4 separate regions of the Homo sapiens genome follow, and all the other regions are reported to be linked to region 1. Evidence: microRNA targets listed by miRTarBase, many of them from high-throughput screens and not tested one by one. Region 1 holds a microRNA gene; each other region holds the end of a gene's coding sequence.
The links. Region 1 holds the annotated microRNA hsa-miR-4679 (UCUGUGAUAGAGAUUCUUUGCU, at 4,802-4,823, opposite strand). A microRNA usually pairs through its seed, bases 2 to 8, with sites in the 3' UTR of a target mRNA and lowers its output. Matches are read on the target gene's strand: a 7mer-m8 pairs with bases 2 to 8, a 7mer-A1 pairs with bases 2 to 7 and ends in A, and an 8mer does both.

Region 1 (7,816 bases):
CATAAACTCCAATTTTGTTCAAAGCAGCTTTGTATCCAATTCAAAAACTACTTTTCCTAACATTACTTATAGCTACGGATCATCTTGTGCCACAGTTCTAGCTAATGAGATGGAAGCAGAAATCTGCTGAAGATTTCTAAAAGTTTTGCTCTCCTAATGTAGGTGCCATCCCTGCTTCTTCATTTTTCCTTCTCACTCCTACCTGAAAGGAAAATGGAAGACCAGAGATGGAAACTTGTGACCAAAGCTTCCTGTTAAGGATCACAGAGAAGAAATATAGGAAGGAGCTGGGTCCCTGATGAAATTTGTGGTGCTTTACACTAAGTTCTCCCTGGGTTTATGCCCTTTGATTCCTTGTTACAGAAGAAAAGTAAGTCTTATTATGTATAGCAGGGCCACAGTTGTGTAACAGCTATGCGGAGATATTGATCCTTGCATCCCTCTGAGTTGAAATGTAAAAGAGAGGATGAGGGGGCCTGGGAAGAGATGTCCTTAGTTGACTCCTTCAGTCCACAAATAGCCCTCTCCTCCCATATTTTATAAAAATATAATATATTTTATACGATATTATAAAAATATAATTGTGTATGAGTATCATGATGGAAAAAAGAAATTAAACCTGCATGTGTAGATTTCTGTATTAGATTTGAATCAATCCTAATTGATACAGCTATTGGTCTTCATTTTCCTTTTTATACTACAGAATATCTTAACTATCTATTCATTCATATATATAGCATTTTCTTTACATATCAATACAGTATTCTGTGCCATAGATGTTCTACGGCATGGCATTCTCTATATGATAGTTGTTCATTTTCTTTTTTCTTTCATTCTCTCTCTCTCTCTCTTTTCTCCTCATTTCACCAATACTGCACTGAGTATTTCTATGAGTATTTGTGCACTTTTATAATTTTCCCTTCAGAAAAAAATTACAAAAGTGGAATTGCTTGGTGAAGAATATGTATCATTTAAGTGTTTAACTGCTCACAGATACTGACATAATCAAATTGCCTTTCAAACTGATACCAATGTACATTTCCACCAACAGTAAATCTGCTTGTTTTCCCAACCCTAGCCATTATGGGTTGCAATCCATCTTTTTATTCATTATCAATCTTATTTTTTCTGTTTTGCCATCTTTGGTCTGAAGGTTGAAAGCAGAGAAAAAAATAGAGATTGAGATATCTAAAATCTTCATCCCATCATATGACTGTAATATGAGAAAAACGCTAGAGGAAAACTAACCATGAAGCTATATCTCATAAAGAGCTTATGTGGCACTGAAGTTTTCAGGGGAAATTTGGGAAAATGCATTTTATATTTCTGGGGAAAATTACCAAATGTAGTTTATTGCCAACACCATTTGGTGTTCCAGAGAAATGGGCCCTTTCTTACAATGTTGTGGTTTATATCAATTGGTGTTAACATTTCATAGTAATTTTGCAATGAGAATTAAACATTTAGAAGTGTATCCATCTCTATTTCAATATTTTTAAAAAGTTCTAATAGTCATAAAATCAAATATTTATTTACAAGGATGTTTGCTATAGCATTATTCGGAATAGAAAAAATTATCTGAAAATAAAATTTGAAACTACCAATAAGTACTTTATTAAATAGTTTATTTGATACCCACACATTTGATGCCCATAGTATTATTTAGTAATTTAAAAAGTCATGTTTAAATGATAATTTTTGAGTGAGAAAATATTTCTGAAATATCAAGAGACAAAGAAGGATACACAAGAATATATATATATAATATGACACCCTTTTAATGGTACATATGGAAGATATTTACACCAAAATATTCACCATGAGTATAAAAGATATGATATGGCTTGGATCTGTGGCCCTGCCCAAATGTCATGTCAAATTGTAATCCCCAACATTGGAGGTGGGGCCTGGTGGGAATTGATTAGATCATGGGGGCAGTTTCTCATCAATGGTTTAGCACCATCTCTCTTGGTGCTGTTCTCATGAGAGAGTTCTCATGAAATCTGGTTGGTTAAGTGTGTCTGTAGCACCTCCCCACCTCTCTCTTGATCCTGCTCTGGCTGTGTAAGAAGGGCCTGCTTCCCCTTTGCCTTCCTCCATTACTGTAAGTTTCCTAAGGCCTCCCTAGAAGCCAAGCTGATGCCAGCATCACGCTTGTTATACAGTCTGCAGAACTGTGAGCCAATAAACCTGTTTCCTTATAAATTACCCAGTCTCAGGTATTTCTTCATAGCAATGCAAGAATACACTAATACAAGATGGTTGAGATCACGAATGAAATTTTATTGACTTCCTCTCTTCTTTTTTAGTAGTTTAAAGTTTTATACTTTAAATAATTATTCTTTATGCAATCAGAAAAAGGATATATTAACAAAATAGTGAAAAACTTAAAAATAGTAGTGATGTTCCTTTAAATTTCCTAGGGAAGATGGTGTGGCCTTTTTATTTTCACATCACACAGGTAACATGCCACAGTCACAACAATTTTTGAGGGAAGCTCATCTCACACATGAGCCTAAAAACCCAGTCACACTTGTGAGATACAAAAGAATCAATGTGTTCTTTTGAGAAATACAAGTAGGGTTGAGAAATATAAGTAAGTTTGAGAAAAAGCTGAAAGCCTAATAAATAAGTACTAAAGCCATGCTAATGAATAAAGAGACTCGACATGGTAAAAATGTCTACAAATTTAATGAAAATTCAATCAAATTTCAAACAAGTTTGTGTGTATGTGTATGTGTGTGTAAGTGTGTACATGTAGAAAGTAACAAGATGTCTCTATAATTTATATCAGAAATGCAAAATCTAAGAAATGCAAAAATCTAAGACAATATTACAGAGGAAAAACAAACCTTACTAGCTTATACACTACTAGATGTTAAGAAATGTTGTAATTAAGCAGTTTCAGTGTGGTACTTGTGCAAGAATAGACACACAGACCAATGAAACAGATAGAGGGTCCAGAAACAGACCTACATATTCAAGGTCACTTGATTGTTGGAGTGCAGTGGGGTCACGGAAAGGATGATTTTAATAAACGATGTTGAGCCAAGTGGATATACATATTGAACAAAATAAAGTTTCATTCCTAATTTTTGTTTTCACTGGAAATAGAAATTAATTTCAGATGGACAGATGGTAGACTGAAATACGATAGGTAAAGCAATGAAGTTCCTAGGTTAAAACTTAGTAAGAATGTCTTTATGACCTTGATGCAATCTAGAAGCACTAACCATAAAGAAAAAAAGATACATTGGATGCTACTGTAATTAAGAATGAGAGTCCATCAAATCATATTTTTAAGGCAGTGATAAGACAAGCCACAGAATGAACAAAGATATTGCAATACAGATATCACCAAAAATTTCATATACAGAATATATATTTTAAAACTCCCAAAAGTGAATAGAAAAAAAATCAGATAACATAATAGATAAAGTAGGCAAAAGAAATGAAAAGACACTTTACAAAAGAAGATATTCAAATGACCAACCAACGTAGGAAAAAAGTTCAAATGCTGATTGAAACCAATATAATTTCACAATTACAAGAATAGCTAAAATAAATAAGCAATCCCAAGTGTTGGTGATTTTGTGAATCAACCAGAACTCTCCTAAATTCTTGGTGGGAGTATGGGTTGATATAAATACTTTGGAATACTATTTGACTGTATCTAGGAAAGCTGACCATGAACATTCTCTATGACTTGGCAATTTCCTTTGCGAGCGTATGTCCAGAAGAAATGCATACATATAGTCACAATAAAACATGTAAAAAAATGTGCATGGCAGAATTTTTTGTGCCAGCACCAAACCAAAACTATCTCAAATGTCCATCAAGAATAGAATGAATGCCTAAATTGTGGAATTTTCATACAACAGCAGAAAAACAATGCTACATGTAACATATATAATTTTCACAAATATAATGTTGAACAAAAGAAGCCGGTATAAACTGTATTATTTCACTAGTATAAATAAAAAGCAGGAAAGAAGTAATCTATGTGTTATATATGAGCATAGTGGCTATCCTTGGAAGAGTAGTACCTGGTAAGGGCATAAAGGTACTGATAATGTTTTATGTATTGATTTACTTGCTGATTATCTGGTATGTTCACTTGTAAAATTTCACTAAGCTGAACACTTGAATGTGTGTTATACTTTAATAAAATATATACTTTAAAAGAAGCTGCTAAAGAAACCATTTGTATGTTTATATCAAGTTACCTGGTGGAAAAATTAGTTAGAACATGATTTAAAAACTTTTTTTAAGTTTAAGATAAACCTAGTTGCCAAAAACCCAGTGTGGCCTCAAGCTTCTATGTGTGTTGAAGTCTTGAGACCTAGACAGGATATAGGTTCCAATCATATTTTCTTCTTCAAGTTTCCTGATCTCTGAATTGGCTCTTCCAGTAAGTTCTTGACTTGGCCCCTCTTGGTAATTGTCTGATTTTGGTGCTCCAGTCCTTGGCTTCCTGCCTGACTCCAGCTTGGCTCAGCCCCAGTGTGTGATACCAGGTCCCAGTCCATGACTGACTTTTTGTCTGAATCGACTCATGGTTTCATCTCCCCAGTTTTTGCCCCATACCAGCAGTGTCTGATAAGCTTCCAACATGGGTTGATGAAATCACTTTTCAGATAAACCTTGAGAGAAAAAATTAAAACATTGAAAAAGATTTGTAGACAAAAATAGATTTTCTCTCCATTATGACTTATATAAAAGAAACAAAAGCAGAAACAAAAACTTTTGCTTTACCGTCTTTTTTCTGTGATAGAGATTCTTTGCTTTGTTAGAAACAAAAAGCAAAGAATCTCTATCACAGAAAAAAGATAGTAATAAGCACAGATGCCCAAAGAAGCCAGGCAGACTTTTTTTTTAAAGGTTTAAGTTTTATATAAAATGAACTTTTCTATTAAAAGAAAAACAGATGATTTTTTTCCATTTTTTTCTAGAATTATACAGCTCTCAGTCTAAATTTGTAACACAGAGAAATATGTGCTTACTATATATATGAAAAATAACAGTGCCAATACCTATTAATAGTAATCCCTTTTAGGGCAAACGTGGACTGTAGTAAGTTGTAGAGCCTATGCCTTATCTACAGCAAGTAGCTGCTATTCTGTTCCGTGTGTGATATTGTGGAGATGTGCAGACCTAGTGCAAGAAGAGATAGAACCTATGCTTTTAGGTAAAATCTCCTGGTTTGTAAATTTAAATTCAAACAATTTAAAAGACTGTGAATGTCAAATAAAATATGTTTGGAGCTGGATTTGGCTCAGAGACAATTAGTTTGTAACCTCTTCTAAGGGTTAGCTGTATATTCAAGATCTCTTCATTAAAGAAATTCCGGAGGACTATTCACGATGAAAATAACTAGAGATTTCAGTGTCCTGTAAAAGTCTTGGACCAATCAAGGAAGAGTCCATTTCAACCACTTTTTTTTTCTCAGATTCAGAGACAGAATCAGATTTAAGTAGATTAGCCCATTCATTCATTTATTTATTAACTCAACAAGCATTTATTTGGCAGCTGCTCTTTCCAGATGTACCTCAACTTGTTTCAATTCAAATTATTTAATTAGTTTCAAGTGGAAAACCAAATGAAAGCAAATTCACAAATAACAAAAGATTTTGCTCAAATGATAGCCCTAGGCTTAAATTTCAAAACCATGACCCCTCTCTGGAAAAATATTTGTGCATCAATTGGCTTTTATGGTAGTAACTTAGAGGTCATTCAAGGAATCTGGAAGAAAATTAAAAGCCTCTGAAAGCTGACTTTTTCAACCAAAGGGAAAAAAAGACTCAGTAGGCACAAACAATTCAATAAATGAATGCATGCAGAATGATATTTAGAAGTGAAAATAGCAATTAGGGCTAAGGTTCTAAGGGTCAAGGAGAGTTTTAAGAGTAAAATTTTGTACATATGTAAGTGGTCTCACTATTCCACTTCCAAGTCTATTTTTGTTTTAAAGGGAAAGGCATAAAGAATAAAATGTCAGTCACCCCAACATTTTTTTTTTACTTTTGTGTGTGTGTGTGTGTGCTTTTTCTTCCCTAATAGGAGGAGAGTTGAGATCACTACTCTTTTCTCTTGTTATTGTCTCTGGGGTCTAGTTTTTCCTTCTACAGGCCAATCTTTAATAAATATTTTTCTTCTCACAATGTCACTCGAAGAACCCAAACACTAATTCTTTTAAATGACAATGATTATCCTTTTATGCAACATCAATTCTCCAAGCTACTCGGGGGCTTCCCAGAGAAGATGTTGAAGCTGCCAACTCAACTCTTATTGAGTGGAGTCACTGTGAATTCTTTCCTGGAACCAAAGTGCGTCTTTTCCAAACTCTGTTTACAAAATTCAATTTCTTCACTCTTCAGTTCCAATACAGCTACTGACAAAGAAAAACGAGCACATTCTTTAGCAATTCCAAGGTCAAGATCATGGGACAAAAGGGCTCTGTGGTTTGTTTCTTCTTACCAATATCTTGTGCAGATGAAAAAGGGCTGGTAAATTTCCCTATAATAAGGTCGTCAAACTCATGTTTGATTCAGAGAAAAAAACTGTGGACTGTATTTTGTTTGCTTAGCCCTCATCCTAAGTAGAAAAGAATGGAAATGCTTAGAAAACTCTCCCTGGCAAGCTCTCCCTGTCTGCCCGTAACCTTCCTGAGCCTGTATTCCTTTCTCCATACCTGCTTCTCCTGGCCTCACATCTGCTGATTTATGAGCATAGGATGATGCCTTGGTGACAACAGGATATGGCTCCCTGCCTCCTAGATTTCTCTGCAATGACATTTTCTAGAAGAAGACAGTCTGTGAAGTTTACCTAGCACGATATTTTAAAAGTCCTAGATTTAGAGTCAGAATTCTAGCTGGATAAATCAACCTCGATAGCTATAGTTTCCTTATCTATATAATGGTGTTAAATATCCACATCACACAATTGAAATAAAAATTAAATTGAAAAATATAAAATATCCAGAATGGTGCTTTGTGCAAAGGAAGTTCTCTATTAATGATGGCTGAATTTGAATTCCTAAGAGAAATGGCATCTTGAACATTGATCATGTATTATTTGCAAAACTTTAAGAGAAGAGGCAATGCAAATTATCCACAAATATGTCTGTTTTCTTTCTCCAAAAGAATTGAATATATTACAATATTAGTAAACTAAACACAAATTATTTTGTCAAAATAGATGCAGACTTCCAAGCTGTATAGTTAGTAACACTATCACTGGAAAACTCACATTTTTCCCCAAAGAAACCCCTACAAGCTTTGAAATTCCAAATTCAACTATCCAGAAAATTAATATAAAGGTCAATATGGGACAGTCTTTCTAGTTGAAAATACTATTGATTTTTTTTCCACTCAACCATTTTTGAAATCTGAAAAATAGGTTAACTATATTTTAAACATTCACTTTGGTCTATCTGGTTCTTTATGGTTAAAAGTTATGGGATCTGGCCAGGCTTTTCTCTGGAATCAAGGATCATTGTCTGAGAAAGATCAAAACCACTCACTGTCTTGAGAGACTGACAGTTTGCCCTCTTCACTGAGCCTCTGCAGGGAAAACTGCATACATGTACTTTAAAAGCATTCTATTGAAGTACAACATACCTGCAGAAAAGTATGTACATCCTAAGTGTTCAGCACAACAAATTTTCACAAACTAATCACATTTACATAACCAGAAGCCAAATAAAAAATCAGGATAACAACAGGATCTCAGAAACCCCCCCAGGCTCCCTCCAGCCCTGCCCATCCAGGGGTAACCTAGCAGCATAGAGGAGTTCCACTAGTTTTTGTGTTATATA
Region 2 (4,264 bases), not on the chromosome of region 1:
AAGACACAACATTCTCCTTTGGTTACCACCTGACTCTGCCCCAGGCCAACATGGTATTTAGAGGTGAGGGTTATTGGGAGACATTTGGCTATCCTGAGGAATGGGGGATGCAGAGGAGGGAGGGAAGCTCGACCTTACTTCTGGTGACTATTTCCTCCAATCCCTGTTAAATAATCTAGTGGGTATTCTCTCCCCCAACAGGCTTGGTGGATAGTAACTGGTGTGTAGGTGCTGTGCTGGAGAAGAAGATGCCCCCTCTGCCTGTCACCCTAGCCCTTGGAGCCTTCCTCAATCACTGGCGCAACAGATTCCATTGTGGCTTCAGCATCACTGTGGGCTGAGGTTGTCCAGAGCCAGCCCCCACAGCAGCTGGAACCTCTGAGTCAGGTGCCCTAGGGCCAAAGACTAGGCCCCTCTTCAGAGCCCACCTTGCTGGGTGATCTCTAGGACCCAGGAGCAGAGTGGTGGACAGGACCATGCCCTCCTCAGAACTGGAGCTGCCACAGGGGCAGTTGATGAGGCAGAGGTTTGAGGATCCCCCCTCTGCTACCAGCCCCAGTATCACCTTCCCCATGCTCTTGTGGCTGTGGACTAAGGGAGAAGGATTAAGGGGTATGGCTGAATTCCCCCGGCACCCCTTGCCCTCAGGCTTCCTTCTTCCTTTCCCTTTGGTTAATCCTGCATGGGATTAGCTGACCATCCTGTTTTCCATCCCAGAGCCTCCCAAGGCTGGGAAAGTAGGGCTGAAGGGCTAGATGTTTGGTCTCAGGAAGTGGGGCCCACCCATTCCCAGAAGGAGCTTCTTTACCTCTTAGCCCTGAGGTTTCCTCCTTCCCATCTTCTGTGCTTCCAGAGAACAACTTTGTTCCTATGGTCACCCCCACTATCCCCATGACCGCATGAAGAGGCAGTTATTGCTTTAGTCTTTCATTGCAACCACTGGGCTCCCTTTGAACCCGGCCCAATCTTTGGTCCCAGCATTTTCCCACTCCAGTGTATCCAGGGTGTTCCAGGTGAGCTGGGGAAGGAAGTGAGCATGGCCTCAGCTGCAGATCTCCTGGAGCAGCGGCATCATGGCAGACAGGCCCTGGATGTGCTGGATTTGGTACCCGTAGGCCTCATTAATGCTCCGGAGCTCAGCCAGCAGGCCTAGCAACTTCGCATACAGAAACCTTTGGAGGAAGTAGTGGGGTTGCCAGGAAAACAGGAGGGAAATAAGGCAGTTGGGAGTCTTGTCTCTAGGCCCTGATCCCCTGAACTATTCCTCAGTGAAGCCAGGTCTGAACATTAGAGAAAATCATGCTCTGGTATGACAGACTATCAGAGGTTCCAAAGGTCCTCCAGGGGGCCTCGGTCTGACACTGTCTTCTCTCACCATGCTCAGTTTTTTCTGAACCCAGAGCTCTGAGAGCCGAGTGTGAAGAAAGCTCCAGACTTGGCCAGAACTCCAACCATGTGGAATCTGAGGGCCTGGCCTTCTAGAGCAGGTTCTAGAAGGTGGATGTGTTCTATGGTATAAAGCATCCCCTTTCTGGCCAAACTAGCTCTTGGAGGAACGAGCAAAACAGAAGCGGTGCATACCTCAGAGCCTGGATAAATCACAGACTATTGAACCTGGAACTGGCTTTGACCATGAAACTGTGAATGGCCCTAACTTCAAGGGAAATGAGAAATCGAAGGAATTGGCCCAATGGCGAGGAGAGGAAAGGCCAAGGGAAGAGAAAAGTCTGCGTTAGTCTGGAGAAGTTGGACTAGTGAGGTAATGGATGTCATCAATCTCAGGAATGCTATTACCCAGAGCCTCTGAGCTACTACTTTGCATCTGTACTGAATAAAAAAAAAATCTGGAAAAAGTGAGATGAAACAGCAGTATCCAAATACAGCAATTTGGATGCTGAAACGATGTGAGACAGGGATGGCCAGGGGGAAGGACTAGACCCCACGATACCTGAATTCCCTAAGGAAAGGACAGTAAAAAAACATTCCTCCCAAGCTCAATGTTTCACCAACCCCTTCCTGCCCTGGTGTGGCCTCCAAGCCCTCAGTGTCCCACCGTACCGATCCCGGGGCCTTCGCTGCTGGCCCTTGATGTAGCTTTGCAGAGTCAGTGCCATCTCCTCTTGCAGCTGATCAATCTCATCTCTCTGGGTAACTCCAGGTCGGTCTGTAAGATAGGGAGCTGGGAAGGACAAGTTGGGTGGCAGGGGTGGGCCTGCGTGGTGCCCCGGGGACTGAGGCTGGGATAGACCTAGTCTGCAGGTTTGATAGCTAGGCTAGAAGGCCTGGGTGGATGGACTCAAGGAGCTGAGTATTTGGGCAGAGGTGGTGCAGCAAAAGGCTCTGGGCTTTGGGAGGTGCTCACCAGGAGAGAAGAGGGCCATGGCAGCCAAGAGCACATACTCAGGCTCTTGGAGCTGCAGTTTTCGTAGTGTTCCATGGAAGTGAAAGAGCAACTCCAAAAACTCTACCTGGAACCCCACTGTGGGAGATACTAGGATTAGGAGCCTCTAGGTCACCTGACCACATCCTGTACCATGAGGACACATGCCCCCTATTGCTCTAGCACCATCTCACCACGGGCTCCATCTTCAATTGTGTAGCGAAGAGGCCCGCAGAGGAAGTTTTGTGTTTGGAGACAGAAAGTGGTATTGAGTACGATGTGACAGATTTCCACAGCTGCTCCCTTGAGAAGGGAGATCTGGTCTTCAATGGGCAGGGAACTGTGGAAAGCAGGAAACAAGGACACTTTTCAATTTTTTTTTTTCTGAGACAGAGTCTCACTGTCACCCTGGCTGGAGTGCAGTGGCGTGATCTCTGCTCACTGTAACCTCTGCCTCCTGGGTTCAAGCAATTCTCCTGCCTCAGCCTCCCAAGTAGCTTGGATTACAGGCGTGTGCCACCATGCCTGGCTGATTTTTTGTATTTTTAGTAGAGACGGGTTTTCACCATGTTGGCCAGGCTGGTCTCCAACTACTGACCTCAGGTGATCCACCTGCCTTGACCTCTCAAAGTGCTGGGATTACAGGCATGAGCCACTGCACCCGGCCCACTTTTTAATTTTTTGTTTGTTTATATGTTTTTATTTTTTGTAAAGATGGAGTCTTACTATGTTGCCCAGGGTGGTCTCGAACTCCTAGGCTCAAGCAGTCCTCCTGCCTTGGCCTTCCAAAGTGCTGGGATTATAGGTGTGAGCCACTGTGCCCAGCCGACAAGGGCACCTTATTATTATTCTTATTAATTAATTTATTTTTGAGACAGAGTGTTGCTCTGTCACCCAGGCTGGATGTAGTGGCCTGATCTCGGCTACAGCAAACCTCCGCCTCCTGGGTTCAAGTGATTCTTCTGCCTCAGCCTCCTGAGAAGCTGGGATTATAGGCGCCCACCACCACACCCAGCTAAGTTTTGTATTTTTAGTAGAGACGGATTTCACCATGTTGGCCAGGCTGGTCTCAAATTCCTGAGCTCAAGTGATCCACCCACCTTGGCCTCTCAAAGTGCTGGGATTACAGGCATGAGCCACCGTGCCTGGCCTATTATTATTATTTTTAGCTTTCATTTTTTGAGACAGAGTCTCACTCTGTCACCCAGGCTGGAATGCAGCGGTGCTATCTGAGCTCACTGCAGCCTCAACCTCCTGGGCTCAAGTGATCCTCCCACTTCAGCTTCCTGAGTACCTGGGACTACAGGCACCCACCATCATGCCCAGCTAATTTTTGTATTTTTTGTAGAGTTGGGGTTTTGTCATGTTGCTGAGGCTGGTCTCAAACTTCTGGACTCAAGCGATCTGCCAGCCTCCGCCTCCCAAAGTGCTGGGATTACTAGTGTGAGCCACTGCGCGGCACCTCAAGGGCACTTTAGATGCAAGCCTGTACTTCAGAGATGGAGAAGAACTCCCAGTTCTGATTGGCACATTTAAAACCAAAGCTGGGAATTCAAGACCTAATGCTTGGAAAGGCTGACGCATGTGATAATTTGTAGTCAGTGACTTTTCGGGGTGGATATACAATTTACTGAAGTGTTTGCCTCCTGAAAGATGAGGGGAGGTCACTCACCGGAAGACGGGCAGGTCCTTAGTAAACTTGATGACTTGCAGTACCATGAAAGTGTTGATGTCTGCGAAGTGTGTGACCAGAGGCAGCACAGGGGCCAGGGTGGGCAAGGGCTGGTGATGGATGAACAGATGAGCTGGAGGCTGCAATGATCAGAACATTAGCTAGAGGCTCTGGCCCTAGGGCCCTCCTTTAGGCCTCGCCAGCCTTATCTT
Region 3 (4,000 bases), not on the chromosome of region 1:
CAGCTACTTGGGAGGCTGACGCAGTAGAATTGTGTGAACCCGGGAGGCGGAGGTTGCGGTGAGCCGAGATGACGCCATTGCACTCCAGCCCGGGCAACAAGAGCGAAACTCCATCTCAAAAAAATAAATAAATAAAATAAAAAATTTTGTAGCAACAGAATCGCTAAAATAACAGGTGACAGTAGACGATATATAGTATGATCTCAGTAAATAATTGGTTAGGTTTGTGAAGTAGAGGGATTTGAAAGACCATGTTCTGGTGGTGGTTTTTGTGTGTGTGTGTGTGTGTGTGTGTGTGTGTGTGATTTCAGTGTCCCTATTCAGGAATATTGAACATCTTTATTTCTTTGAGGATTTGGCTAAAAGGATATTAAGTTTTACCAGTCACTACTGATAATTCTTGTCTTTCATTCTCAGAAACATTGCAGCGGCCCGTGTGGAACATAAACAGAGAACTAGGCCTGCCTCATCCTCCTTTTTCCCAGCAGCCAGTCCATGAGTCACCACAACTTCATCAAAATGAGGGCCTGGCAGGGAGAGAGCCAGACTGTTCTGCTTCTTCCATGTCCTGCCACAGGTTACAGGATCATGCTTTTGATTTTAGTAGGACTCGGAACATTCAAGATGGTAGTGAGGGCACATGAAACTCACTTCAGGATGAAATCTGGGCAGAGACTTATTAATTAATTTTGCATTTACTACCTCAGAGCTCAGAAGAAACTCCGAAGTCAGCATTTGCTTTACTCTTTCTTTATGATTGCATCTGACCGCACCAAGGTGGGCCATGCGTTGTTTGGTCTTATACCTGATGAAGAAATGGCAACAGCTGACAGAAATGGGTACAGCTCATCAAAAATGTGCAGCACCGGCAGAGGGAAGATACGGGGCAAATGTGCTTCCTGATGCTTCCATGGGGATGTGCCCTGGTGTGCATCTGCTTGTCAGGAAGAGTCACATTGCTGCTTAACATGCTGGATTGCCCTAGTCTTCAGAATGGTCCTGAGAAAACATCACTACTTCGATGTTCTACTTTGCTTTCCAAGGAGCAAAAATAACTTTGGAGCCTTCTGGGAAGTGTGCCTGGGATTCTTCAGTGGTTTCAGGCAGATAGTTGAGACTGGGGCTTTGATATTCAAGGTCTTTGGCAAGAATCCCAGGCTTGACCAACTGGTACCAGGTCAAAGATTTTTGTATTCTTGTGAATTTTTTTTTTTGTCCCTATTGCCCAGGGATGTCATTGTAAATATATGTGCATTTATAAATAATTTTTGTATTCATTGACCATATGTGTTGGCTGCAATGTAAATATTTTTGATATGCCAAAATTATATGTAATATCCAGTTATAATATTGACAAGTAGCTTCTCAGATCACAGATTTTAAATAACTCAATTTAGTGAGATCTAAAAATTTTATTTAAAGTATAAAAACTGTGGCTCACACCTGTAATCCCAGCATTTTGAGAGGCTAAGGTGGGAGGATTGCTTGAGGCCAGGAATTTGAGACCAGGCTGGGCAACATGGTGAGACCCTGTGTCTGCAAAAAAATAAATTAAAAAAATAGGTGGACATTGTGGCATGCTGCTGTAGTCCTAGCTACTTGGGAGGCTGAGGTGGGAGGGTCACTTGAGCCCGGGAAATCAAGGCTGCAGTGAGCTGTGTGAAGCCACTGCATCCCAGCCTGGGTGACAGAGTGAGGCCCTGGCTCAAAAGTAAAATAAATAAATAAAAAGTTTTAAAAACTTACTTGTTAAGAAGTGTATCTATAGAGGCAGCTACTTAGTGATTGTATACACATAAACACAGTCTTGGTGTAATTAACCGCCTTCTTCATGCCTAGAGGTTCATACTTCTGGTCATTTGCCATCTGTTTAAAAGTGCTAGGTGATACTCCCTTTCTAACATAAAAAGCTTGTTCTTTCAGAGCCTGGCAGTCCTGTCACAGCTGTATGCACCTAGAGGAAAACTTGTTTGGAAATTCCTTTCATTTCCTCCCCCTCTCCCTCCTTCCCTCTTTTTTTTTACTGAAACAGAAATTGATTGAGGAAGGTTCAGTCATTCCTTCAGGAACCAATGAGTTAGATCGGGTTGTTACTTTATGTATAATGAACGCTTCAAAAACTGGAGGCTGATTTAAAGATTGCAGAACTTGAGTCAGACTCATAAGCAGTACTGTGACATGAATTGGAGCCAGAACAGTTGCTGATATCAGAACCATCTCTTTCATTCTGTGACTTTGCTCTTGCCATGTTCTGACTGGGGTGAGCCGCTAGGATACAAATCACTATCACTGTCCATATTTGAGTCTGCAAATCTTGTCATTGTCTGCTTTAATGCTCTTTGAGTTGCAACAGGTGTATTATTTAAATGAGTATTTGAAATTCTGTGAACAGGAATTCTTTTGGTAGTGAAATAGGTGCTCACACCTGCTTGCTCAGAATGTGAAAATATTATTTCTGAGTTCTCTTTGTTCACTTTCTAAAGTGACTGTTGTTTGGTGTTGGAGATGTTAACTGGGTTCTATTAGGTGTGCTATATCTTGGCAAATATTCCCCATGATGAACTCTTCCTACTATCACAATCAGGACTATGACTGGATTTCTCAGTCTCAGTGCCCCAGATTCACCATTTCTGATTGTGTCTGGAGAACGTTTTCCTGGAAAGGCATTCCATGTTCCAAAAGCTACAAAAACATGCCACTTTGCAACTATGGGTCAGTTATTTGCTCTCTCAATGTCTCATGTTGCTGAGTTCTAGAAAATCTCTGTCTCATTTACCAGGGGTCATTCAAAAGTCTGAGATGTATATTATCATGAAATATTTGTGAAATTTCTCACCATGAATTTGGAGGGAACCTACTTTTATTTCTCGCTCTGGTTCTCCATTGGTCTGGGCTCCTGCTTCTCAGTCTTCTCTGACCTCTGGTAAGTGGAACTTTCATTAATACTTCTGTCGCACTTTGTACCTGACCTAGGTGGCCTTGCAAATGTTGACTCAGATTGTGGATTTTCCACTTTCCTCTGTTTTCCCTATTTTCTCCCCTGGGAAATCTTGCAGATGATGCATATTCATTTTCTGTATTCAGCCTTCCATTATTAAGGATAAAATTGATCCCTACATTGAATCTGAAATTACCACTATATGGATTACTCTGGCTCACTGCTGTCCAAGCTTGGTTTTCTCTTTGCTTACTTCCTGTCATATTTTCAGTTTGCCCAAAAGAGGTAAGCCACTTTATTACAGACCCATTACTAGTGCTAGACGTCATCCACCTCTGTTTTCACCTGATTCTTGTGGGGAATCCTCTTTAATTTGTTGTAACCTTCTCAGCAACTCTTCTGTACTTCACCTATAGTGCCTAGCAAATTGTTATCACTCATAAGCCTGTAATCTTCATCACTCAGGTTATTTGCAAGTAGAAAGCTTCTGGAACCATTTGTCCATCCGACTTCTGCACTGGGCCACATCCATCTTCTTCATTGTCAGAATCTGAGTTTTCTGTCTTGAAGAACAGCTGGAAAGTTGTCTGGCTGTTATGACACAGTATTGAAATACCAGACTGAGTTTCAGTTGTTTCTAGTTGTGTTCACTTTGTGCTTTCTCTGAATGGGAATATCTTCTTTCAGCAAAGTTCTTCATTGACCAGGAAACCAAAGATTGCTTCTTTTCCAAGTTTGTTTTGTTTTTAATCTTTTACCAATGTGCAGTATATCTTAAGAAGGGAAGAGTGCTCTTGGGAGTAGAAGAACATGCAAACATTCTTTTTTCTTTATTATTATTTGAGATGGAGTCCCTCTCGGTCACCCAGGCTGGAGCGCAGTGGCATGATCTTGGCTTACTGCAACCTCCGCCTCCCAGGTTCAAGCAATTCTCTTGCCTCAGCCTCCCAAGTAGCTGGGATTACAGGCACACCACCATTTCCAGCTTTTTTTTTTTTTTTTTTTTTGATATTTTTAGTAGAGATGGGGTTTCACCATGTTGGCCAGGCTGGTCTTGAACTC
Region 4 (7,816 bases), not on the chromosome of region 1:
TGACTTGGTGGTTTCTCTTTTGCCAAAAGGTCCTTACTTGACTTCTGAAGGCTGTTTGTACCAAATACTTTTCAAAAGCCCAAGCCTGGTCTCCTCACAGCTTCCTATGGCAGTGCTCTCCCCCCTCCCAGTGCTATGCGCTGGGCAACTTGGGGTGCCCCCCATGAGGCCAAGGGAGGACCCTGGGGTCGAGTTTCCTTCGGGGGCATTGTGTGGAGGGGCAGGCAGCTCGCTCCAACTGCTGGGAGTGGGGGAATCCCAGCTCTGCCCATCCCTGCCAAGTTGGGGTTGTGTGTGGATCTTGGTGTTAACTCTTGCTTCCTTCTCTGCTTCTGCCATGCTTCCAAGCAGCAGCTACTCCATCCGCCACTCAATAAGTATGCCAGCCATGAGGTAATGTATGCCTGCTCGCTGCGGCTCCAGAGCCGGGTGTCTCTGGTGGGGGTTGGGGCAGCTCCCGCCGGTTACACCTTGCCCTTCCCATATTCCTGGATTAATTGAGGACTCCATTCCCTTGGCAACCTCTGATGACTAAGGGCCGGTAAAAACCCCCTCTAGGCTGACGAGGAAGAGCTGGTAGGGGGTCAGGCTCTTCACCTGCAGCCTCCAGAGGAGATCCTTGTGTCAAACTGGGCCGTGTCCTTTCCAAGTCCTGACCCTGGCTGCCTGCAGTGGGTGGGGTGGGGTTCGAGGGGCTCGCACACAGATCCTGGCACTTGCCCTGGTGGGCTGTCACTCAGGACACTTCACGGTCTCAGCCTTCACGGAAACACCCAGAGCTGTGGTCCTTATTCTGTGCCTGTCAGGCACCACCCTGATTCTCAGGATTCTGTGCCTGTGCCGTGAGGCACTGCCCTGATTCTCAGGAGAGCCCAGAACTGTGGTCCCTATTCTGTGCCTGCGCCGTCAGGCACCGCCCTGATTCTCAGGAGAGCCCTGTTCTCCTTGTGGGGACTCTGGCTGGGTGTCGCAGACGTGCTGGCCTCTAGAGTCCCCGGGCCTGGGAGGGGTATCTGTTTGTGTGGGAGGGACTGAGTGGGATGGAGCTGGCCTGCTTTCTCCTCTTGTCTCCTTATCACTCTGCTGTCCCAGAAGTGTCCTTGGTCTTCCGTTTGCTTCTCTGAGAGATGTGCATGAAGAACTGCACAGACTTTTCATAACTTCAGTACGAGAGCCCAGGGTGTCCCTGTAGGGGACAGCAGAGAGGGGCCGACAGCCCCCCAACTGCGCAGACTTTTCATAACCTCAGTACGAGAGCCCAGGGTGTCCCTGTAGGGGATAGCAGAGAGGGGCCGACAGCCCCCCAACTGCACAGACTTTTCATAACCTCAATACGAGAGCCCGGGGTATCCCTGTAGGGGACAGCAGAGAGGGGCCGACAGCCCCCCAACTGCGCAGACTTTTCATAACCTCAGTACGAGAGCCCAGGGTGTCCCTGTAGGGGATAGCAGAGAGGGGCCGACAGCCCCCCAACTGCACAGACTTTTCATAACCTCAGTACGAGAGCCCGGGGTATCCCTGTAGGGGACAGCAGAGAGGGGCCGACAGCCCCCCAACTGCGCAGACTTTTCATAACCTCAGTACGAGAGCCCGGGGTGTCCCTGTAGGGGACAGCAGAGAGGGGCCGACAGCCCCCCAACTGCACAGACTTTTCATAACCTCAGTACGAGAGCCCGGGATGTCCCTGTAGGGTATGACAGAGAGGGGCCGACATCTCCCCAGCTGCACAGTCAAGGGGTTTCCAGTTGCCTTGTGTGACGTCTGGACCTGTCCCTGTGGTTGTTGGGCATGGCCGACCTCACTTTTGACCTGGGGAGTCTCCGGAATGACCTGGCTGTCTCACAGTTTTGCCATGAGATCTTGGGATGTTGTTAGGGACCCTTTGGAGGCTGGCCCTAACCCTGAGGCCCTTCCGAGTTAGGAGAGCAGCACAACCCTCTCCTCTTGACACCGACACTCTTCCCTCTCTCTTTAAAGGAACTCTGCGACCTTCAAGTCGTTTGAGGACCGAGTTGGGACCATAAAGGTAATTGTACCTGGACTGTTTGATGGTCTTGGCAAGGTGTGACCTGTTACAGCAACTTGTTTATTATTAGTCATTTAGTTATGGTAGACTCACATACAGTTGTGGGAAGTAATGCAGAGAGGTTCCTTGTGCCTTTTACACAGTTCTCTCCTGTGACGACATCTTGGAAAATCCTGTAGTGCAGCCTCCCCACCAGGACATTGGCACTGACTCAGGACACAGAACGCCTCCACACTGCCCTTCCTGGTCCCCACTGCCCTTCCTGGTCCCCACTGCCCTTCCTGGTACCTTCTTGGCCATGCTGACCTTCCTCCCGCCCTACCCCCGGCAACCCCTAGTCCACTCTCCCTTTGTATAATTGTGTCATTTCAAGAATGTCACGTAAATGGAACGATACAGTGTGCAGCTTTTTGGCATTCACTGTCTTCATTTGGCATCGTTCTCTGGAGACCTGTTGGGGCTGGTGCCCGTCCGTGATTTGCTCCCTGTCCCTGCTGAGCAGTGTTCGTGTTACATAAGCTTTTGTAGAGCATTGAGCATGGGCCTGGGATCTGCCTTGTGTTGTGTGCTCTGTCTCAGGTTTTTCTGTCTTCATCTTTTCTCTCCTGTAGTCTAAGGTTGTGGGTGACAGAGAGAACGGCAGTGACAACCTCCCTTCCTCAGCGGGGAGTGGTGACAAGCCCCTGTCGGATCCCGCACCTTTCTAAGCCTGTGGTTGCTTCACCCGCTGCAGAGCACACGCAACCCAGCCTCAGCATCACAGCCGCAGCTCTGTTCAGCGGAGCAGCCAGCCAGGGCGGATGAGCAGAGCCGGCCCTGAGGACAGTCCTGCCCATCCACGCGGAGATGTGGCTGCCGCGTTTGCATGAATTTGAAGAACACAGGCTTGTACACAGATGTTTTACACTCACGTTTGTAGATGAAACAGATCACTGTGCTGTCCTTCCTAGGGGTGCAGGAAGTGGACAGGGCGGAGGGTTTGAAAGAATATTGAGCCAAAGCCCAGGCTCCCTTTGGGAATCATGTTAGCCCATCAGAATGTTGAAGGATTGAAGAGTTCTAAGCATAAAATAAGTGGCATTTTCTGACTTCTTCCTCCTCCTCCTTCCCTGACTCACAGAAGGAATGCAATCACCCAGCAAGTCCTACCTGTTACGCAATTTTTTATCTCAAAATGCCGAACGAGAAAACTGTCCATTTTCTGAGACCCCCAGAAAGGAAACTGACCCTCAGCAGCTGCCTGATTGTTACGCGAATCTAGCTTTAACGGAAGCAAATTCATTATTTTTTAAATGCAGTGGACTTTTCAAAAAGTTTAAATTAGGCAAAGCAGCTTTAGCCTCATAGAATATTATTTCTTTGGACTCAAGCTGAAATACAAGCCTTACATTGCCTTATGCTTTATTTCTTTCTAATTTTTATATGTATATAGATGAGGGTTCCTTAATGGTTGTGAGCATTGTGTGGAATTTTACACCTGGCCTGCGTGGCAGCCTCTTCCAGTTGAGGTGTTTTATGTCACGCACACTCCATCCCAGTGTACAAAACCTGCTTCTCTTCTCAACCGTGGCAGCTCCCGCTGGCTCCTATGCCCTGCCCTAAAGGGCTCTTGAGCCTCTGGGAATGGGAGGGGCCAAGAGAAGGAAAACCCTGTCTTTAGCACCCTTTAAAAGAACTGTGCCCCCCTTCTCAGTGCTGCCTTTGCATGGGCCTGGCCCGGCTCACATTCGTCAGTGACTCCAACCCTCCTGCTTGCTGTACTTGGGATGAAACGACCCCACAGGTCAGGTGGAGGGTGGGGCGTGGGCATCAGCCAGGATTGCCGTTACAGTCTTTTTCTCAGGAGCTACAAAGATCTCTTCCTGTTACTAAATAGTCGCACCCCAGCAGCCTCTCTCGCACACCGGGGCCCTGCATGTCAGATGGCGTGGTCTGCAGGGGGAGCTCTGTGCCTTAGTGGCTCTTGGCAGGACACTGAGGGCCTGCCTGTGGTGTGCCCGGCTCTGCCACTCCCGGGAGGGGAAGGGCTGCTCAGCTCAAGGTGTCCTGTTCGGTAGAGCAAGTGTCCTCTGACAGCCGTGTCCCCGGACAGTTCAGACACCCTTGGGGATGGCACTCCACACACGACAGAGATGCAGGGGCCAGGGAAGCCCAGCGCTCGGTGCCCTTCGTCCAGGGTTAAAATCGGCCTGTGGGGTGTGGTGAGAAGGCAGGTTGTGCGGGTGTTGACCGATGTATCTTTTCCTTAAAGTTATTATAATAATGGGTAATTTGTCAATAAAGCATTCCTTTGGGGGAAAGTCCGCCTCGGCTTGTGTGATGTATCGTTCGGGACCATGATAAGAGTGGTAAATGAACTGGCACACGGTACCTGCCCTAATGAGTCCGCACCCTTGGGAGAGGCAGGCAGGGGACAGTGCTAAAGACAAAGGGCAGGTCCTCAATGCTGGGACAAGGGGAGCCAGCTGTGAGGGGAGAATGGTATATGGCCAACCTGTGAGGTCAGACCCAGCGTCTTGGGAAGAGGAGTTGAAACTGAGCCCCAGGAGGCGGAGGAGGAGCTCACCAGGCTCCAGGTTGGGCCGGGAGCTCCAGAGGCTTCGCCAGCTGCCCCTGCAAGCACTGAGCTGCTGCTGAGCACACCTGTAGTCCCCGCCATTCTGGAGGGTGAGGCAGATCACCTGAGCCCAGGAGTTCAGGACCAGCCTGGGCAGCATACCGGGATTCCATCTCAACTAAAAACAGTAGGCTGGGTGTGGTGGCTCATGTCTGTAAGCTCAGGACTTTGGAAGGCCAAGATGGGAGGATCACTTGAGCCTGGGAGTTTGACACCAGCTTGAGCATCGTAGCCAGGCCCTGACTCTACAAAAAAGTGAAATAATTAGCCGAGTGTGGTGGTTCACACCTGTAATCCCAGCTGCTCAGGAGGCTGAGGTAGGAGAATCATTTGAACCCGGGAGGTGGAGGTTGCAGTTAGCCGAGATCACGCCATTGCACTCCGGCCTGGGCGATAAAGCGAGACTCTGTCTCAAAAAAAAAAAAAAAAAAGAAAAAGAAAAAGGAAAAGACCCTTGAGGGGGAACCTCCACTCTGCCCCTGGTCTGGCGCTTTGCATGTATCCATTCCTAGTCTTTGGAGTTCCCACTGGAAAACTAGTGGGAGCACCAGTCTTCCTTTGGAGGTCAGAGGTAGCTGGGCTCACCCCAGATGTAAGAGCAGGGAAAGTTAGGTGACCTCGAATTGTATGGTACATAAGCCCCAATACAGCAGGGAGCTGGTACCAATAAAGGGTGAAATGCACTATTGCCGCCTGCAGTCAAGATTTACACTAATTTATTTTGGAATGAGTTCATGTGTTCTTCATTTATTGAACAGATACTGTAACTGCCCTGCGGGTAAGAGTCTGCTAGGTTTTGTGGGGTACAAGGGTGAATCTGATGTGGACCCAGTGCTCAAGGACTTTGCAACCCGTTTGTTGGGGAAGACAGATTCCCCTAAGTCACTGGCTTGTGTTTGACGAGGTGAAGCGCTTGGAGAGCTTCGAGGATGGAGCAAGTGGAGTAAGTGGACCTGAGGAGCGGGCAGCAATGCCTGAAGGCTCAGTCCCCTCTTCTCAGAGTGAGGGTAATGGTATCTGCCTCATCATATTGAAAGGCTTAACCTTATAAAGCACTTAGCACAGGGCCTGATGTATCAGAGGTAAACATCAGACTCTTCCCAACTGTAGCCACTGTCAACTTTCCTGTCTTCTTTTTTTTTTTTGAGACAGGGTCTCACTCTGTCGCTCAGGCTGGAGTGCAGTGGTGCAATCTCAGCTCACTGCAACCTCCACCTCCTGGGCTCAAGCGATGCTCCTGCCTCAGCCTCGCGAGCAGATGGGATTTACAGGGGCATGCCACCACGCCCAGCTAATTTTTGTATTTTTAGTAGAGACAGGGTTTTGCCATGTTGGCCAGGCTGGTCTTGAACGCCTGACCTCAGGTGATCCGCCCACCCCGGCCTCCCAAAGTGCTGGGATTACAGGTGTGAGCCACTGTGCCCGGGCGTACCTTCCTGTCTTATTTTCTCCAAGCAGGCTGGAATGTTCATGGATAGATATATGTGTGATAATATACTTTTTACATATCATGCATCGTGCTCATTTTAGTTTCAGGAGTTCTTTGCTCCTGTGTAGCCTTTCTACACATTATCTTTCTTTTTTTCTTCTTTTTAAATAAGAGATGGGGTCTTGCTCTGTCACCCAGGCAGGAATGCAGTGGCACAATCATGGCTCACTACAGCCTTGACTTCCCACCCGATCCAGCCTCCTGAGTAGCTGGGACTACAGGGGCATGCATGCCACTGTGGCCGGGCCAATTAAAAAAATTTTTTTTTATAGAGATGGTGGTCTCACTATGTTGTCCAGGCAGGTCTCAAACTCCTGGGCTCCAGTGATCTTCCTGCCTTGGTCTACCAAAGTGCTGAGATTCCAGGCGTGAGCCATGGGTCCCGTTGTATACATTTCAGTAACTATATTATTCCATTTGAGTGCTCACTTGTGCAGTTGGGCAGGTTTCCATTCTCGCTATTAAAAATAGTGCCTTCATGAATATTTCAGTGCATATACCTTTTTCTGTATTTAGGAATATTTTCTTTGGAAGAATGTCCCTAAAGTGGAACTGCTAGGTCTCAGAGGGACTCACTTAAGGCTGGTTCATTCATTCTTGCAGCTCCCAGCACAAGTGGAATATAGCTTCAATCTGAGATCGGTACCAGGCCCATTTCATTCTCTCATCCCTCCAATTCTGGCCTGAAATATTTCATTCTCTTGGAATCTATAGTTGTAGATATGAACCTGGCCTTTCTGCTTCTTGGGTTCCATAGGCCTTTTCTTGCTGCCTGCTTGATGTTGCGCAGCTTAATGACTGCTAGGAGGCTTCCCAAGCTCTGACACTTCCAGGCTGTGAGACTGGAACAAGCTTGGCAATTCAAGACCGGCATTATGGCAGTGAGTTATGAGGGCAGAGGAAGGAGGCCAGAGCGTGTTGAGAGAGAATTTGGGTTTCACGCAGTGTGTCACGGGAAGCCTTGGATGCTACTGGGTTTGTTTTAAAAAGATGACCGCACTGAACTCAGGTAAACGGGCAAGGGTGGAAGCGAGGAGGCAGGAGCACCGGCCGCAGAGGTCTGGGAGCTTCTAGGATGGGAAGTGGCCCAGGCAGCCTACGCGGGGCAGGCCGTCAGTGAGTGGCGGAGCGCCTGCAGTTACAGGGACAGGGAAGGGTGGCCGACGGGATGGGCAAGGGCAGAGGGAGGTGGAGTGGACGTTCGTGGTCCTGCCTCTCCACGCTGCTGTTTGGAGATGATTCCGGGAGGGTGGGAGGGCGCTGGCGACGGCATTTCAGTGGTTGGACAGGAAGGAAGGAAGGACGTCCCATCTCGGCGCTCCAGGGTTGAGCAAATGTCAGTCCCAGGACGGTGGCTCCGGGTGGGGGCGGGGGCGACGGTCCGCAGCCGTCTCCCACCAGCTCCCTGTTCAGTTCTTTGATGAGAACGATTACGTTTTCTCAGTCTTACTTAAAGCGCTGAGTAAACTCACCTGCAAGACCAGCAAGCCCTGCGCTTCTCTTTCTGCGCGGTTCCCCGCAGCACATGGCGTGTCCACCCGGGACCCACCTGCGGCCACCTGAAGACTGGGAGGACTGGCTCCGCCCCCGCGCTTCGTCCCCGCCCACTCATGGGCGGAGCCTCCACAGGGCGCCTCGGCCCCGGGCTGTCACTCGGGACTCCGCCCCTTCATGGACGGAGCCT

Region 2: miRTarBase lists TOMM40L as a target of hsa-miR-4679. Seed matches in the 3' UTR shown: 8mer at 1,598-1,605.
Region 3: miRTarBase lists LRIG2 as a target of hsa-miR-4679. Seed matches in the 3' UTR shown: 8mer at 1,370-1,377.
Region 4: the mRNA of TPD52L2 is a reported target of hsa-miR-4679. Seed matches in the 3' UTR shown: 7mer-m8 at 2,783-2,789 and 7mer-A1 at 3,141-3,147.

What each region holds. Positions count from the first base shown.
Region 1 is chr10:89,058,580-89,066,395 of GRCh38, forward strand. MIR4679-2 (microRNA 4679-2) reads right to left here and starts at 4,832; the gene lies at 4,756-4,832. MIR4679-1 (microRNA 4679-1) reads left to right here and starts at 4,757; the gene lies at 4,757-4,831. It overlaps LOC124902587 (small nucleolar RNA U13), which reads right to left and starts at 2,552; the gene lies at 2,452-2,552.
Region 2 is chr1:161,228,755-161,233,018 of GRCh38, forward strand. TOMM40L (translocase of outer mitochondrial membrane 40 like) reads left to right here. Exons shown (of 10, transcript NM_032174.6): 9 at 1-63; 10 at 202-1,992. The coding sequence ends at 341. NR1I3 (nuclear receptor subfamily 1 group I member 3) reads right to left here. Exons shown (of 9, transcript NM_005122.5): 5 at 4,053-4,192; 6 at 2,575-2,720; 7 at 2,363-2,479; 8 at 2,059-2,164; 9 at 915-1,172. The coding sequence ends at 1,043. Among named protein-coding and RNA genes, the nearest start is that of MIR5187, 3.7 kb to the left of the region's middle.
Region 3 is chr1:113,123,458-113,127,457 of GRCh38, forward strand. LRIG2 (leucine rich repeats and immunoglobulin like domains 2) reads left to right here. Exons shown (of 18, transcript NM_014813.3): 18 at 418-4,000. The coding sequence ends at 644. It also overlaps the pseudogene RLIMP2. Among named protein-coding and RNA genes, the nearest start is that of LRIG2, 52 kb to the left of the region's middle.
Region 4 is chr20:63,887,213-63,895,028 of GRCh38, forward strand. TPD52L2 (TPD52 like 2) reads left to right here. Exons shown (of 7, transcript NM_003288.4): 6 at 1,978-2,026; 7 at 2,638-4,326. The coding sequence ends at 2,733. Among named protein-coding and RNA genes, the nearest start is that of DNAJC5, 4.0 kb to the right of the region's middle. RefSeq lists enhancers at 7,127-7,296, 7,229-7,756, a cis regulatory region at 7,212 and a silencer at 7,756-7,816.